Regions from separate parts of the Homo sapiens genome. Here region 1 is linked to region 2. Evidence: fine-mapped expression QTL. A gene starts in region 2. The other region holds a variant in brackets. All regions are shown on one strand. Distances are between the middles of the regions. Region 1 overlaps LGI2 (leucine rich repeat LGI family member 2). Region 2 holds the start of LGI2 (leucine rich repeat LGI family member 2).

The links. PIP is the estimated chance that this variant, and not a neighbour inherited with it, causes the effect.
Region 1: its variant is the best candidate, but not a certain one, in a credible set for the expression of LGI2 in lung (TOPMed, PIP 0.86).

Annotation. Positions count from the first base shown.
Region 1 is chr4:25,001,843-25,006,228 of GRCh38, forward strand. It overlaps LGI2 (leucine rich repeat LGI family member 2), which reads right to left. Exons shown (of 8, transcript NM_018176.4): 8 at 1-2,426. The coding sequence ends at 1,609. All of the region lies in intron 4 of LOC102723675 (a long non-coding RNA gene), which reads left to right. Among named protein-coding and RNA genes, the nearest start is that of LGI2, 27 kb to the right of the region's middle. The variant G/A (reference allele first, on the strand shown) is at 1,990.
Region 2 is chr4:25,029,095-25,033,480 of GRCh38, forward strand. LGI2 (leucine rich repeat LGI family member 2) reads right to left here and starts at 1,852. Exons shown (of 8, transcript NM_018176.4): 1 at 1,403-1,852. The coding sequence starts at 1,599. It overlaps LOC124900684 (a long non-coding RNA gene), which reads left to right and starts at 1,014. Exons shown (of 2, transcript XR_007058083.1): 1 at 1,014-1,139.

The DNA.
Region 1 (4,386 bases), 27 kb before region 2:
TGTGGCAAAACATCTACCTACTCATGACATGGCAAATAGTCATTTTACAATAACAATACAGTACAATATGATCGTGCTACTTTCATGGCTAGGAATGAAGTTGTTGGGTTTCTCTTTCAGAGCTACCCCTAAAGGCATTCACTTTATATTCTCTGAAGAGAACCAGCTAACCAGGCGGAACATCCACTAAGAATCTTCCACATAACCAGACCCCAGGAGCTTGCCTATTGCCCATACCAGAGAGGCCCATTTGGAAATACACCATCTGGTCTCTTGAGCACAGACCTGGAGTGTGGGATTCAGCTTGGCTGGCTCCAAAGCTGGCCCCTACTGATCAGCCTGAGATCCCCAGCCTGCACAGGCTGATTCCACTGCCAACACGTGGCCCCATGTGGGTCCTGGCGGGGGTTCCTTTGGTAAAGTACTGGGAGAGGAAGGAGTCTTCCTATCTGAGTATCTTGGGTTGTGATTTGGTGTGGGCTGCACTGGCAGTGCAATAGCAGCAACTCAACAAAACAGGACTGTTACACAAGCGGGGCGGAAGGCAGGTGGGCTGGCAGGGAAGTTGGTATTCGATTACTTGAAATATTAAGTTGTCCAGAGGGCAAGGACACGCACAAATCAAAGGGCCACCTCTAGGTTTCAAAGCAGGTCGAGATCTGTGTAAAGTCCCCTTTGACTTCATAAAATCTCACTTCAAAAATTCTACCGAATGCTCATCAGACGGAAATAACTGTTTCATCCCTCTAAAGGATGAAATGAAAAGCACCAGTCTTTGGCCTGCCTGCTGGTTACCCACAAACTCAACGGGTGGGTTCTGAGAAGCAGATGAGCCATGAAGAGCATCAAACAAGCATTACTGCTCTGGCCACCACCAGGGTCACCTTTGAACCGTAAGAAAGAGGGAAAAACTCCTTTGAGTCACTCCTGGGCCTACAGCCTGTGCTGGGTCTAGACATGTGTCACCAGAGTATTGTCTTTGTGGCAGAGGAAGCAATGTCAAACACTAAATTGTTAACATATCCATGACAAGCATTCATATGAGCCAACAAAATCACCAAGGTTCTGCTATTAAGGAGGATTCAGGAAGACTGGGCATTACTTTCAGGAAACTGGGATGACTCAAAATAGCACTGCTGAGTGTTACAAGATTTTTAAACTAATAATCAGCAAATCTTTTCAGCAGACTTTTGGCTTTAAGAGTTCTTACCAAAAAGATTGCTAAAGTGGAATGAGAGGGGCTCAAAGTTTTTTTTTATTTCATTATAAGTGCTGTCCCATCTTATCCAATTGTCTTCTTCCTCATCAAAAAGCGGGGGGGAAGCATATTACATTTCTAGATGATAAGAGTAAATGCTGTACTCTTTTCTCAGAAATTACAGGCTTTAAGATTTTTTTTTAAATGGTAGAATGGGCATGTCATGCAGTTAGCCAATAAATGCAATCCCTGATTAAAATGTGAGTTCTAAAAGTTTGAAAACATCTAACTATTTCAGTGCTTTTTAATTTCAGAGCTCTGAGCCTGGCTTTGATTTGTTTGTTGATTTTTCTTGGTCCTCTTTTGTGAGAGCTAATGCTACATTTCTCTTAGTTTCACCCACCACACCTTCACAAACTTAAGTCAACAATTATATGTTCAAAAATCTTTGTTTTCCCTTTGAAACTGGATGCAAAAAAGAAATCTCTCCTGTCGGTGGAGACAGCTGTGAATGAACGAGGCGCCTGCACGTAAATCTCCTTAAACTTTTTGAATAGCTGCTTCTCTTTATCCCACTGGTATATCTGAGAGAATGTATAGTCACTCCCCAGGGCCAGGTAGTGATTATCTTTAAAAGAAAAGGGCTGCAGGGTCATGGCCCCCCGGGATGGAAGAGCTTGGATCTCCACAAACTGCTTACTGTTCCACCTCATGACCCGGGAGTCCCCGATGAAGCGGGTAAGGGAAAGGTAGAGGGTATTTTGCATTCGGAAGCTCTTCACAGCCAGTAC[G/A]TCCTCCATGTTGGGGATGTCACCATGGGGGACAAACTTCTTAGAGCTTTTATTCCACTGGAGGATGATGGGGACCTGGGAGCGGCTGGACAGGATGAGATGCGATTTTCCATCGATATCAACAAACTCCGCATCCGTGTCCCTGAACCACTCGTGCAGTGACTGGTAAGAATAGAATCCTTTGCTGTTCCATTTATAAACTGTGGACAGACCAGCCTTTGAGCTGTCTGCGATGACAAAGAACGTCTCGTCGTCGATCTGAAACAGCTCGATGTCATTGGGCTTGGAAATGCGAGAGACCTCTATGTCTTGGAATTTGACAAATTTGGTCCAACTCTCGTCGTATTTGTAAATGTGAGAGCCACCGAAGAGCTGGGCTACCACCACAAAGACCTGATCATCGATGAGAATGGCCTTACAGCCCACGATGGACTGACCTGTGCTCCAAAATAAAGGAGAGGACATTAGTGCAACTACAGCTAAAAACGCATCTCCGCTTGTACTCTTATACACTGCTGGTGGGAGTGTGAAATGGCACAGCCACTATGGAAAACAGTATGGTGGTTCCTTGAAAAATTAAACATGGAATTACCCTATGAGCCAGCAATTCCACTTCTTTGTATATACCCAAAATAATTGAAAGCAGTGACTCAAAGAGATATCTGTACACCTAATGCTATAGACCAAATGTTTGTGCTCTCTCCAAATGCATATGATGAAACCTCATCTCCAATGTGATGGTATTTGGTGGTGGGGCCTTTGGGAGGTGATTAGGTCATGGGAGCAGAGTCCTCAGGAATGGGATTAGTGCCTTCCAACTCCCTCTGCCCTTTCACCACATAGACACAGCAAAGAGGTGGCCAGCTATGCAGTGGGTTCTTGCCACATACCAAATCTGCCAATGTCTTGATCTTGGACTTCCCAGGCCCAGAACTATGAGAAATAAATTTCTGTTGCTTATAAGCCACTCAGTCTACGGTATTCTGTTGCAGCAGCCCAAACAGACTAAGACACCTATAACATCATCCTTCACAATAGCCGAAAGGTGGAAGCAACCCAAGTTGCTTCAATGGACAAATAGATAGACAAAATGTGGCATATACATAAAATGGAATATTATTCAGCCCTAAAAGGAGGAAAATTCTGACATATGCTACAACATGGATGGACTTTGAGGGCATTAGGCTAAGTGAAATAGCCAGTCACAAAAAGACGAATACTATATGATTCCACTTATATGAGGTACCTAGAGCAGTCAGATGCATAGAGACAGAAAGGCAAAGAGTGGTTTTCAGGGGCTGTGGGATGGGGCAAATGAGGAGTTGTCATTTAATGGCACAGAGTTTCAGTTTTTCAAGATGAAAAGCGTTTGGACGTTAGTTGTACAACACTGTGAATGTACCTAATGCCACTGACCAGTATACTAAAACATGGTTAAGACAGTACATTTTGTGCTATGTGTATGTTGCCACAATTAAAACAATTTTTTTAAGTTGTTTAAAAATGTGCTTCCGTAGAAATGGCTGAGTGAGGTCTTCAGGGCCTCTGGAGTCCTCAGAGGCAGGCATACAATTCAGGAAACTCACTAACGCACCAAGGGAATTATCATCATGTTTTTAAATAAAGCTACATTAATTAGCTTGATTTAGCCATTCCACAATGTATACATATTTCAAAACAACATTTTATACACAAATAAATAGATACAATTTTAATTTGTCAGTTTAAAAAATGTGTATCCTTGAAAAAAAAAAAGTATTTCCTGACTCCATATGGCAGAAGGAGGCAGTTAAACAGGCTTCTCCTGGGGTGGTGGGGGGTTGCGGGGGGTAAGGGATGATAAAAAGGCAGGAGTGAGGTCTCAGAGGCAGGAGAAAAAGATTTCTGAGTGTTCTTGAAGACATTTGGGCTCTTTTGATTTCCAGAGCTAAAGGAAGCCAAGTGGAGGCAGAAAGAGTAGGATTAAACCTTATGACACAGACCAGGTGGCCTAGGGTTCAAAGCCCAGCCCCGCACCTTGTAAGCTTTCTGACCCTGTGCTGGTTAACCCAACTCTCTGTGCTCAAGTTCCTCATTCGTAAAATGAGACTGAAGATGCTGCCAGCACTGATCTTACAAGTGACTATAAGGATGAAATGAGATCATTCATGGCAAGCGTTTTTAGCATGGAGCACTGGCACCTAGCGGGTGATTGCTCATTAGTGGCTATCATTATTGAACAATTGAAGCAATTGTCACTATAATCACAAGACCTTGCCCCTTAGTGCTTGCCCATAGTGGGCATGCATAAGTATCTAAAGAAGGAGCAATAGTCTGAATGATCTAGCTCAGACGTCATAAAACTAAGACTTTGCAGAGGCAGGGGACCATTTTCCGTGGTGACTCTCCCCTCTGGCT
Region 2 (4,386 bases):
GTACCATCTGCCAGATAAAACGGTCAACCAGGAGGCAAGATGCTTGGCTTTATTTCTGCCCCCAGGCCCCCATCCTTTCTGGCCACAGCAGGATCTGAATACATTATTTCAGAATTCCTTTCAGTTGGCATGCAGATCACTTAAGCAGCTGCTGGTCTGAAGGATTTAATAAGGGGAACTCTAATTTCTGGAATCCTCCATGTCACCCGACTTAGCAATATTAAGAATCAAAAAGGTCCTCTGTTCCCACCAGCCAAACTCTTCTGACTTTCTATAAATGCAAATGGGAACCCCCTCACTCCTGGGTCCAGGCCCCTACAATTTGCCTTGGGTGGGAGGCTGGGAAGCACTGGACACAAGAAAGTATCTTGAGCACAAGCAACGTCACCCCGGGGATTCCCTGCCTCCACCACTGACTGGGCACCCAGGCATCTTGGCCTGGAACAAGAGAGTGGTCTTAGCAGGAAACATGTCCTAGCAGTAAAGATACAGCCCAACAGCCCCTTCCACCGCCCTTGTGAGAGCTGGTCATTTGGCTTGAGTGGCCAGGTGAGGGCAGGATGAAAGCACCTCTCGGCAGGTGGATACCTAATGTGAAGCCCTTTCCTGTCAGTTCCTCCTGCTGAAAAAGCAGCCAACACAACTGTGTGATGGAGAAAGGGGGCAAGAAGCCCTCCTGACCTCAGGGCAAGAAGGCTGACTTCAAAGCACTTGGCCACTGGGCTAGGCGCCCAACATGCCCCAAACCTCTGCCCAGCCTTCTGTTACCCCTCTTCTAGGCCACGGGGGGCGGCCCCTCCCCTCCCAGAGCCTGCATGCCTTGACCTCGACTTTTTGCAACCTGCAATGTGGAGAAGTCGGGAGGAGGCCACGGGGTGAACATTCGCCCCAGACCTGATGTGGGGCAGTGAGGCCTCACCCTGCCCAGTTTGCACTCAGTCAGGTCGTGTTCAGCTGCTCCTATGCACGCCCCTACACACACAACTCCAACCCGCAAACACACACACACACACGCACACGCCCTCTCAAACTTTAATGCACCCTTGAGTCTCCCGGGGACGTCAAACGCACACTCCAGGACTCCACTCCAAAGACTGCTTCAGAGCAGCTGGATTCTGCATTGGCACAAGCTTCCCCAGGTGAGTCTGATGCAGGTGGCCCGTGGGCCACACTCTGAGAAACGCTGCCACAGGAACCTGTCTGGGTTCCCAGATTCTGGGGCTCAGGTCCTCACCGTCCTCCCCGGGGGCCAACACTCCACCCACGTCCCCCACACAAAGGCAAAGAAGGGGCCTGGGGAGTGGGTCAGGGTCGCGCTGGCCCGGCGCCAGAGGCAACTCCCTCGCGGCGGCGGACGCAGGGTGGGGCGGGACGGGATGGGGGCTGGAGGGGTCCCACTCACAGGGAGCTGATGTCGCCCGGCACGATCCTGGGCACCCAGGAAGAGCCCACGCAGATGATAGACTCCTTGGTACAGCTGCAAGTGGCGGGGCAGCGCGCCAGCCGCCTCACCTGCGCGCTCCGCGGTATCAGGCACGCGGCGCCCAGCAGCAGCAGCAGCAGCCCGAGCGCTCCGCAGCCGCCTCTCCGCAGCGCCATGCCCGGTCCCCGCTCCCCGCCCGGGCCCCGACCCCCACCGCCGCGCCGCGCGCTCGGACCCGGCGCCGCTGCAGACGCGGGCGCCGCTCGCTGCTCTGCCGCCGCCGCTGCTGGCGAGGACTAGGGAGCCGCGGGTGTGGGAGGCCGAGCCGCAGCCGAGCAGCATGCTGGCCGCCACCCCCACTCGGCGCCCCCCCACCCGAGCCCGGGCTGCTGGGCGGCCGCCGCCGCTGCGCCCGCCGCACTCGCGCCTGCCTGACATCAGCACTCGCGCCCGCAGCCCGGCTCTGGCCAATGAATAATGCATGGCGGGGCCCGCCCCGCGGGGGAGGGGGCCAGCGCCGGCCCCGTGGCGCCCCACCCGGCCCCCACCTCGCCACCCCCTCTCGCCCCGGGCCGGGCGCGGGGACAGAGGGAAAAGTTGGGTGACCTTGGGGGAGGGGCCAAGCCTGGCGGAGACCCCCGTCGGGGCCTGACTGAGCGGTGGAGGATCCGATGCCTGCAATACCTCCAGGGGTATAATCTGGGGAGGGCACTGGGTTCCTTTCAGGCAAATCAATAAAGTCGGAGCGGGGAGTGTGGAGAACCGGCTTGATTACTGGGGAGGGAGGCAGCCCTGGGTGCTTTGAAGAGGAGAGACTTTGGAGCAGCCTTTATTAATTTTGAAGTGCATGCTGCCGGTAGGGTCAGCGAGGATGGCTTTGCTTGTCTTCTGCGGTGGGGCAGTGAGGTCTGGCTCTCGCTCCCACAGCACCAGGGGTTACTGAAGCCAGCCAGTCCTCCCATGGGAGGAACGTGGGGAAGCAAAGCCGCTGCAGCCTGCACGCCCGGCGCTCTGGGCCCTGCCTGCTGCCTGCTAAAGAGCTGGAAAGCCCGGGAAAGTTTCCCCTCGCTCAGCTGCCCACGGGTCACCCCACCCGCCCCAGTCAGAGGAGGGTTTGTAGAGATTGAGGGTGTGATACATTCTAGCCACTGTACTTTTAATCTTCTAACCTTTTGAGGCAGGTCCTACTTATATCCTTAATTTATTGATGAGGCTGCTGACGCCCAGAAAGCATCCTGACTGGCTGATGGTCCAGCAGCTCCTGGCTGGGCAGGATGGGGCTCGGAGCCTTGAAGGGCTACCTTAACTGGGCCCTCCTGAGCCCCTCTTCAACTCCTTAAGTTTGAAGCAATGAGCGGAAATCTTAACACAGGTAATGTGCGGCTGAGGAAATCAAAGAAAATGACCAAAGCGGAAACAAAGTAATGGCTAATAACCTGAACTGCTGGGAGAAGGGAATCACAGCACGACTGTCGAGCTGCAAACCAAGGAAAAGCATGCCAGATGCTAAAACCTACTCAGAAAAGTCAGTATCGAATGCAAAAGTAGGAATCATACTATTGCTTCTTCAGCAATTATTGTTGGTGATCCATTGACAAGATCCATGAGGACGGTATCAGGCTGGCTGCTGTGGGAGGGAACAAAGGAACAGCTCCTGTCCTCAGGGAGCTAAAAGTCTAGCTGGACAGACAACCCTAAAAGAGCAACTCCACTGGCTACAAGGGGGTCACAGACTGACCAAAAGAGGTTCAGGAATTGAAAGAGAGCTTTGCGTAGGCAACTTCATGGAGGGAGTTAGACATTCCCTGCTGGTGACTATGTAAAAAGCACCTGGCATCAGTACAAACCAGCCTGCATTTATCATCATTTAATTCTTGCATCTGTCCTGAGAAATGGGTCCTCCCATTTTATGGATGGGAACATTGAGCTCAGAGAAGTTTTTATCTTGTCCAAGATCACACAGGACATGGCCAGGGAGATCATACTCCACAACTGGCTGCTGTGTCTAACCCTCGCTGCTGTGTGGGCATGCATTTACAAATACTTTACTCAGCAAGCCCCAGTGTTAGGGGCTGAGGACACAGACCACAGCCTGGGAGGGCGACAGACATGCAGACCCACAATCGTGGATGTGTGTGCTGTGCACCTGAAAGATGTTTCCCTTAAGAGGGATGGGCTACTGCTTTATAGAGCAGAGGAACGGAGGCTTCTCAAACAGAGCACTCCCTGCTGACCCAGGAAAAGAAAATCTATTTCTCACCTCTGAGTGAGAGCCTGGGGGCAGGGTGGCATAGCTAAATGCTGGCCTCAGGACTAGACAGGTTGGGGTTTGCATCCCAGCCTACCACTTACTGATGTGTAATTGTGTAATCCCAGCCTGCCACTTACTGCTGTGCAAGCTGTGATCTTTCTAAACCTCCATTTCTTCACCTGTAAACAAGAGGTTGTTGTAACCACATTTGGGGGTTAAATGAGATCAAGAAAGTAAAGCATTTAATACCACAAAGGAGGCACTGGGCGTTTGAGCAGAGTTCTATGTGACTAGATTGTAGGTAAGTGACGGAGAGAGGACTATGGAGGGAGATGGGTTTTCCTGACTTCTGTCCTTCCATTGTAATCAGAGTCACTGTCTTGTGTTGTGGTTCTCAATTGCGGGTAATTCAGGGGACACTTGGCCATGTGTGGAGATATTTGGGGTGGGTGCCCCTGGCGTCTAATGTGTAGAGGCTGGGGACGCTACTAAACATCTTGCAGTACTCAGCAAGAATGATCCAGGTCAAAATGTTGCTAGAGCCAAGGTTGAGAGAGCCTGGCTTAGTGTTCTGGAAAGACCCTTGGCATGAGGAATTCCAGAGATGCAGATTGTAAGTCAGGTTCATCAATCACAAGCAAACCTTCTTGGTCATGTTATTCCCATCTCTAGCTTCTATTTTTTCATCTATAAAATGGGGATAAAGAGCCCT